Linked DNA regions of Homo sapiens: regions 1 and 2 are each linked to region 3. The links come from fine-mapping of genetic effects on gene expression. A gene starts in region 3. Each other region holds a variant in brackets. All regions are shown on one strand. Distances are between the middles of the regions. Region 1 overlaps ATP2B2 (ATPase plasma membrane Ca2+ transporting 2). Region 2 has its middle 18 kb from the start of ATP2B2-IT1. Region 3 holds the start of ATP2B2 (ATPase plasma membrane Ca2+ transporting 2).

The links. PIP is the estimated chance that this variant, and not a neighbour inherited with it, causes the effect. A credible set is the group of variants that fine-mapping cannot tell apart.
Region 1: its variant is the best candidate, but not a certain one, in a credible set for the expression of ATP2B2 in testis (GTEx, PIP 0.82).
Region 2: its variant is the best candidate, but not a certain one, in a credible set for the expression of ATP2B2 in sun-exposed skin (GTEx, PIP 0.51).

The regions. Positions count from the first base shown.
Region 1 is chr3:10,389,979-10,392,732 of GRCh38, reverse strand. The region is part of intron 5 of ATP2B2 (ATPase plasma membrane Ca2+ transporting 2); the gene reads left to right. Among named protein-coding and RNA genes, the nearest start is that of MIR885, 3.2 kb to the left of the region's middle. RefSeq lists a silencer at 2,442-2,642. The variant T/G (reference allele first, on the strand shown) is at 1,100.
Region 2 is chr3:10,551,126-10,553,879 of GRCh38, reverse strand. It overlaps a transcript of ATP2B2 not described here. Among named protein-coding and RNA genes, the nearest start is that of ATP2B2-IT1, 18 kb to the left of the region's middle. RefSeq lists a silencer at 1-195. The variant C/A (reference allele first, on the strand shown) is at 1,386.
Region 3 is chr3:10,504,209-10,506,962 of GRCh38, reverse strand. ATP2B2 (ATPase plasma membrane Ca2+ transporting 2) reads left to right here and starts at 1,377. Exons shown (of 23, transcript NM_001001331.4): 1 at 1,377-1,498. RefSeq lists enhancers at 1,388-2,054, 2,055-2,721.

The DNA of each region.
Region 1 (2,754 bases), 110 kb after region 3:
CCTCTTCTGGGTCCAGGGCTCTCTCTCTACCCCTCCCCGTGCTTGTATTCTGAAGGGCTCTGTGGGCAGTTAGAGGAGGTGGGGGCTACAGAGTGCTGCCCAAGGGACTGTGGACAGTGAGGTCCCACAAGGCCCTATCAGGGCCTCCATCCCCAAGAGGTTCCCACCTCTGCCCCTGTGGTCGTCCTTTGAGAGGTTTAGCCCACTGCGCTTTGACTTGGATGTCTGTTGCTCTGCCATTAATTGCTTCTGCCATGGTGTTAAGCATTGCCCTCTGCAGGGGACTCGTGGAGCTGAAGGGGAACGGTCTAGGGAATGCCCCAGTCCTTTGGAGTCTTCCCCTGGCAGGAGGGCCTGGGAGAGGACAGGGCACAGCCCAGTGAGGTGTGGCAGGAGGGGGCACAGCTGGGATGAATGTGACCCTCTGCAAAACATAAAGATGATTTATTAGGGACATTGGTATTCCCAATTATAAATGTAATACATACCCACCCTGGAAAGTTCAAAATAGTACAAAAAATTGTGCTGGAGTTGCAGCTCCAAACCAGGCTGTGCGGGGGAGGCCCAGAGGACACTCCCACTCAGACACTGCCTTCAAGGGGCTCATGGTCAGGTTGAGGAGCCAGGCCTGGAAGCACCCCCAGAGGAGACTTCAGGTGATTCAGAGGAGACAGATGAAGTCCCCTAGTGGGAGTCAGGAGGGCTACCCAAGGAGAAGGGCATTCATCCTGTGGAGGAGGTTGTGAGCAAGAGGTGAGGGAAAGGCATTCAGGTGATCACTGTGAGCAAAGGCCAGGGAGGTAGACACCAAGGCCCAGTGAACTGTGCACACTCCAAAGGCAGAGGCCACGAGACAGGACTCAGTGTCCAGGGCCAAGAAGGCAGAGGTCTCATCCAGGGGACACTGACTGAGTGGTTTGGACCTCAGGGAGCCCTCCAAACCCTCGAAGAAGGGATTGGAACTGGAGGGAGACAGGTAAGAGCAGAGGCTTGGGGATACCGGAGGACAGAGGGAGGGAGGACTGGGGATTGTAGATGCCCCGTCTCCCCTGCCCTGGCTATTGCTCAGCTCTGGAGGACACCCTGGGGCATCTCCAGG[T/G]CTGGGCGGGGAGCGCACTATGCCTAAGCCCCTCCCTGACGTCCTCCTGCCACCTCCCTGCCTCCGGATGTGGGTGTAGAGCTGCCAGCTCCCTGCTGCGATGGGAGTGATTAGATTAGAAGGTGATTTGGGAGTCTGATTATCGTGGGTGGAAATTGGCCCCCTGCATCTTTTTCCATCCTGTCTTGGGTTGGGAGGTGGGGAGCAGCCTCTTGGTTGCCACCTAAGCCAGAGAACCAATGCCTTCATTTCCAGCGAACCTTTCTACTCAGAGCAGAATGTGTCTCAGACCAGAATGTGAGGGCCTTGCCCCTGGAGGCTAAGTGGAAGGTAACAAAGACAACAGGCTCAGGGACAGCAGAGAGTTCAAGTCCAGGCTCTGCCCCTCACCTGCAGAGTGACTCGGCAGTCCACCCCTCCACTCTGAGCCTCAGTTTCCTCCAGTTTGAGGACTAGATGAGATCATTGAGCGTGGAGGGCAGCATGTGCCCTGCACACAGTAGGTGTTCTACAGAGGTCAGCTTGGGTGGCTGTTACTGCTTTCTGTGCCCTATGAATGCAGCGTAGTGTTCCTTCCTCTCCTTTGAAGAGTCTCCAGTGATACCCGCCATGAGACCCCAGTTTCTTATCTGTCTAATGCTGATATGTAACAGCCCCTCCTCCTAGCACCCTAACAAGCCGAGCTGGTGCCCACGGAGGCATCTTGTCAGCAAGTTATTATAATGAACAAGGCCCTGTTACTGGCCCTCAGCAGGGTGACAGAGCAGGGTGGGGTGCTCCAGGGTCTGCCTGTGATGAGAAGCCACCAGGCCTGGGCTGCTCAGCCTAGAGCCAATGTCTGAGCTCATTCTGTGGTCCCCACTGTGCCCTGCCAAGGGGGAAAAAAAGCACTGTCCTTCTGTCCTGGGAATGGCCAAAGAGCTTGCCATCTGAGAATCTGGGTTCCGCACACCCCCTCTGTGAGCCTTCATGACTTGGTTTCTGCATCTGTGCAGGGAGAGGCTGGCATTTACGTGCCTGAAAGGAATCACTGGAGAGTGTCTGTCTCTCTGTAAAGCACTTTGAGATCCTGAGACCCCAGAGACCAAGAGGCTAGATTGTTGCAAGCGCACACACACACACACACACACACACAAAAGCATGCACGCACACACACACAGGCACACACACACACAACATCGGGATATCACTCAGATCCTACAAGGAAAGGGACAAGGTGGGTGATACCACTTAAAAAGTGAAAACAGATACCTTGCTTAAGGCAAGCTCTTTAGGTCTGACCCAGAACCCCTCAACCCTTATTTTAGATACAATTCTAATGAGTTTCCTGACATAGACTTCAAATCTGAGGCAAACCAAAACACAGTGAGAGATAAGTTATGCTGAAAACAGGAAGAAGTGGCACCTAGTCTCGAGGGGACAGAAAAGAGAACTCTGAAAAGCAGAAGTGAGTTCCAGAAGCAAGGCATGGCATGTCGGAGAGTCACTGTCATGGCTGTCAAGGCCTCTGTGACACTGTCCAGCCAGGCCAGGGTGGAATTCTTACTCCCCCATCTGAGAAGGTAGTGTGTCCTGCATCATATACAGCTTTCTACCCAGAGTAGCAAAAAAATAAAAACAGGAAAAAAAAATGTGTGCCTGGAGAGCCAACCTTC
Region 2 (2,754 bases), 47 kb before region 3:
GCTAAACAATGGCCCCCTCATGAGGTCATAGGGCCGCTTAGCAACCACCCAGGCCCTTAGTAACGGGCCCAGAAGTGTTGATATTTACCCAACAGAAACTTTGGATTATCTCGATAACACCCAGTTCCTTCCAGAGAGCTGCAGGCACTAAAAGCAAGCTCCACCCACTCCGAGCTGCTGCTCTGGCTCTTCCAAGAGCAGGCCTATGGAGGGGCAGGGAGTCCTGGGTTTCCCCCCCAGCTCTGCAATCCTCTGAGGGCCTCAGTTTCCCCCACAACATGGGGATCAGACTAAATAAGTACTAAATATTTAAGTAGTATGACTGTATGTCCCTGCTGGCCCAGAACAGTTCCATTTTATCAAGACTATTAAAAGAGGCGTTTTCATTCTCAAGAGTTGGAACATCAACCTTCTGGTCACCCACCTCTAAAAGGCCACTTCCAGCCCTCAATCCCATTGTTCTTCCCCTCCACCCTCTTTCCCAGTCTGAATTAATCCTGAATAGTTTCACCTAGCTTTTTCAAGGTCCCTCTCTGTGTCAGGCATGGAACAGGGCGCTGAGGAAACTGAGGCAAACCAGACGTGGTCCCTGCTTTCAGGAGCTTCCAGTCCGGGAAAGAACACCGCTTAAACACTCTGCAGAAATCTAGGTCTGAATCTAGAACCTTGCAATTCTCAGACTTATTTGTGTTGTCTTCACTAAGCTATTTTAGTAAATAATAATACTCCATAGAATTCCGGTGGCATTTTGCAGTTTCTAAAGCATTTCTGTTATGTTCCCTCATTTAACCCTGACATCATCTGAAGGTGTGATTTTAATATATTCCCATTGCACAGATGGGGAACTGGAGGCTGGAGGCCATAGAGGACAGAGCAGTTGGATGCCCTTGAGGAGCAATTCAATCTCTGCCTCCTTGCCTTCGAAATGGAGATGTTAGCTCCCACTTCATAGAACTGTTATGGAAAGTAAATGAGACAGCACATAGAAAGTCCTTTGGAAAGTGACAGCTGCCTAAAATGAGTGTTTCTGCCCTGAGCTGTCTGTGGCCTCAGCAGTTGCACTTCCTGGATGTTCTCCAGTTCACCTGCTTCTCACATGCCCACAGACACCCATTTGTAAATTTCCTGACCCATTTTTGAGCACAGGGAACACATCTTGGTTGGAACCCCAGCTCTGCCTCAGGGCAGCACTGTGGCCTCGGGCAACTTCTAGCCTCAGTTTCTTCATTTGTAAGAGGAGATAAGAACAAGTCATCCTGAGGATGGAAGGAAGCAAATAACATAAAAGCAGTGCTGAGGGGAGCCAACCCAGCACATAGCTGTTGCTCACAAATGGGAGGTTCTGGATTGCCTTTCTGATGTTAAGTATGTGAGAAGACTTTGAA[C/A]GTGTTTGTGTGAGAGGGAGCTATGGAGGGCAGCACCCACAAGATGGGATTTTTCCCTCACCCCAGGAGCCAGGCCAGCACTCACTTTGGGCGGAAGGCAGGACGCTGCCACCTTCTCTAAGGTTGGCTTCCAGCCACGTTGCAGCAAGGGGGTTCGGCTGACGAAAGCTGTTCCCTCTGTGCCCCACTCACCTTGCAGGAGGAGAAGGGCCCCCTCTTCCCCTTTTCTTTACAGAGTAGCTCCACAGGGGCAAATCTGTCAGATGCCATGGTGATGCCTATGTGGTTTCCCGCCCACGCCCCTCGCCAGTGCTATGAGTCACCAACCGGCACCGAGGCGGCGGCCGTGGGAAGGGTGTTCCCTCTCCGGCTGCAGAAATGCTGCCACAGGCGAGCTCTAGAAAGCCAAAACTGGGCCCCAGGATAGGCACAGTGAGGTTCCTTATGCAACTTTTGACATTGTTCGGAATCAGTGTTACAGAAAGCCCAAACCCAGCCCCATGATAGGCATGGCTACATTTCTTATGCAACCTTGGCATTGTTCAAAAGCAGCGTTAATGTTCGCAACTTCCATTTGCTGAGGGCCCTAGGGAGCTGGCCCAGCCTAGACTTCATGTCCTGCTTCCCACAGCCCAGGAAGAAGCTAGAGTCCCCTTTTCAACAGATGGGGAAAGTGAGACATGCTTGGGGTCACATGGCCAGGACATTCCCAGATGTGACTCCCCTTTACTGGCAGACCAAGGTAGCTTTTGGAATTGGAGACAGACCAAAACAGGTAAATATGATTGATACATTGTGTTCTTGTTTGAATGAAACATAATTGTGAGCAATTGTGTACAGTTGCCGGGCTGAAGGTTTGAACTCTTGATTTCTTAAAAGGAAAGAAAAATCTATCTCTAAATCTGAGTTAGCCTAGAATAGAAATATGTTTACAGCAAAATATTTCTTTATACAAAACTTTGCATTGCCAAAGCAGGGCTGTGGAATATGCATGCGTGTTAGTGGGGTGTTACAGAGGAAGGAACTGCATCAGGGATTGTATCTTGCAAGTAGCACTGACAGTGATCACAGATCCGCATCTGAGACGTTGAGCTTGGCCGCTTTGGCCCCATCTGTGCCCATGGTGGGCTTGATAATCGGCACGTCCATTCACCACTGCCTTGCCAGGTCCTAAAGCCATACTACCTGCTTCACTGCAGGCTGCGTCTCTCATCTTTCCCCCACTGAATTCACTGATCACTCCTCCATCAGGTACTCTAACTGTCCCATGAGCTCCTTAAGAATAGGAGCTGAGCTCCAGGAGGCTATGTGTTGGGAGAAGGGGGCAGTAGAAAATACGTGTAGTTATTTGAGCGACTTGGTATGCCCT
Region 3 (2,754 bases):
CCTCCCGTGGCCCCTCTGCACGGCCGGGTTCTGATTTTGGTGCAGTGCAGACTTTCAGCTTAACGAGACAAATTGGTATTCTGTGCCAGCCCAGGGATGGAGCGGCAGCTCGGGACGCTCGGGCGGGCAGCTCAGAGGTGGGCAGGAGGTGGGGGCAGGGGAAAGAGGCAGCTTCTGCCTGGAACTGCCTCCCGGGGCCGCCTCCAGCCCTGCCCCTGTCCCCCATGCACCCCTCCACCCTGACAGGTGCCCTGAGACACTGGTCCTGAAGGTCCTTCCACCTTCAGTGCCCTCCCTCCAAGCAGGGTACCCCTCCTGGAGGGGGCAGGGCAGTGGAGGCCAAGGCTTCAGAATTCTAGAGAAGCCCCTCGCCCCCGGTGACCTCCTAACCTTGCTCTTAGGGCTCTCCTCCCACCCATCTGGAGTTGAAAGAGCAGCAAGTCTGGCAGAGATTAGGCAGGAAGAGGTGAGCAGCTGGCTAGGGGCTTCCAACCCTACCGACTCCTCACCCGGGGTCCCTGGGTTCCCGTGGAAGTGTCAGTCAGCCCACAGTCGGCCTGCAACTCATCATAGATGTCCTGAAGATTAGGTGGGTGTACAGACATGCAGACACCCCTGCTGGTGGGCACCTTCTTGAGGCAGGCCCTTCTGCCAAGCCAGCCCCCACCACCACACCCCCCCGAGGGCAGGTGGGGTCGCACACAGGCAGGGCGGGTCGCAGGGGTAGCGCTTCAGGGCAGCAGAGAGCTGCTGCGGGCTCAGCTCCACTGGCCCTGGAAACACAGATGTGTTTAAAATGTGTTGAGTCGACTTCTCCCCATTTGCGACCTTTGCCCCTTTGCCCCCCAGGTCTGGGGGTGCCTTGACTGCAAAGAGGGGGGCCAGAGCCCCTGACCAAATAAGTCCCCCAGAAAGCAAGGGACGACTTGGGGCCATTTGAGCAAAATCCTCCCCTCTCTGCTCCCGTTCTCCCCACCACCACTCTCAGGACCCCCTTCCCTCCAGCACAGCCCAGCCCTACCCTCTCCGTGCCCTTGACATTCCCTCCTGCTTCTGGGGAGCGGGCATATTCCTGGGACTCTGCCAGCTTCGGTTCCTCATGATCCCACGGGAGGAATTAAAACCGCAAACAACAGCGTGGTGGTTCGGTCCACACACCCCCCCCGCCCCCCACTCTCCTCCCCCGTGCCCCCTCCAGAACCGGCCCTCCCTGTGTCCCTCCCTCCCTCCCTCCTCCCGCCCCCATCCCCCAGCCTCCGGCAGCGGCAGGGGCGGCCTCTGCCTCCCCCGAGATTGCATTTTGCCGGCGAGATGCTCTCCTAGAACCGGCGCCGGCGCCTCCGCCCCCCGCCCCCCACCCGCTCGGGCAGGATGGTACAGTCTGCAGAGGGGCCCGGGCACGCTGGCTGGGCTCAGCCGCGGCACCAGCTGCCGCACCGCGATTACGGGGCTGCCCGCCGGGAAACCGTGCAGGATTGGTGGTGATTTTCATAGCCAAGTAAGTACCGGCATCCCCCAGCATGAGAAAATAAAAAATAAAAAGCGCCCCACTCCACTCTCCCCTTCCTCCCTCACCCATTTTATTTTGTTTCATTTCATTTGATTTTTCTCAGTGCTGATGGTGGTGGCGGTGGCAGCGTGGAGGGGGGGTGGGAGCAGGGCTTGTTTATCTGGCAGCAGCCGAGGCTGCACTGGGAGCCGCCGCTGAGGGAGACACTAGTGTGAGGGTCCGCGTGTTGTGGGGGACGGCTGGATGCTGGGGACTAGGACAGGGGGGCCTCGGACAAGCGGATGCCCAGGGTCTCAGGTAGATTCCGGCAGCCTCTGGACTGCAAATGCCCCCTAAGGATGTTATGCAAGGGCCAGCAAGCTGGTGGCAGGGGACAAGGTTCTCTTCTCTCTGAGCCGGTCCCAGGGAGACCAAGAGGACTGGAGGGTGCCCGTTGCCCACCCTGGTCAGAGTCCCAGGAAAGAGGCAGGAGGAGGCCCCTGTGAAGCGTCCCTTTGGTGGGGTGGGCAGCTGTGTGCTGGGACTCATTGGGTCAGGCCAGCCGGGTCATGTGGTGGCAGGGACGTGTTCCTGGGTCCCCTCCATGGCCAGGAGGGTGGCAGGAACGGGTGGCCAGGCCATTTTGCAGCAGTCATGCTGGGTGGTGGAGTCGGCACCCTCTGCCCAGAAGCCCACTTCCTAGGCCAGCCTCAGTGGTCTCCAGCTGAGGGATAGGGCACCTGAGGCTCCTCCCTGCCCCCTGCAGGGTCAGGATGGGAAAATGCAGCAGGGGGCCTCAGGACTCCCTGAGGGTGGGTTGCGGACAGCAGCAACCCCTTTCTAGCCAAGTAGCTATTCCACACCACGGCTGTCCTCTGCTCACCCAGGTTGGGGGTTGGGGGTTGGGGGGGTGCTCTGGACTGGCCTGCCCCAATCAGGCAAGGGCCCTGGGGGTCTCGGGCCCTCCATGCAGAGGCCCAGCCTGGCTCGACCTTCAGAAGGGTAAGTGAGCAGGCAAGCCCGACCAGCCGGCAGAGGGTCTTAGTGCGACGCTGCATGCCCTGAGCCCAGCGTGGAAGGGGCTCCCTCCTCTCCTGCATTGCTCTCCGAATCGCTGGGAGGAGGCAGAGCTGACGTTTGGGGTATTTCCAGGATCAGCGGGCGCCATCCGGAGAAATTCTCCTTTGACGTGTGCAGTAGGAGGGGGCTTGGAGCGCAGGCCTTGGGGGCCTCCGCCTGTTAACTTCGTTGAAGGAGCAGTGGCA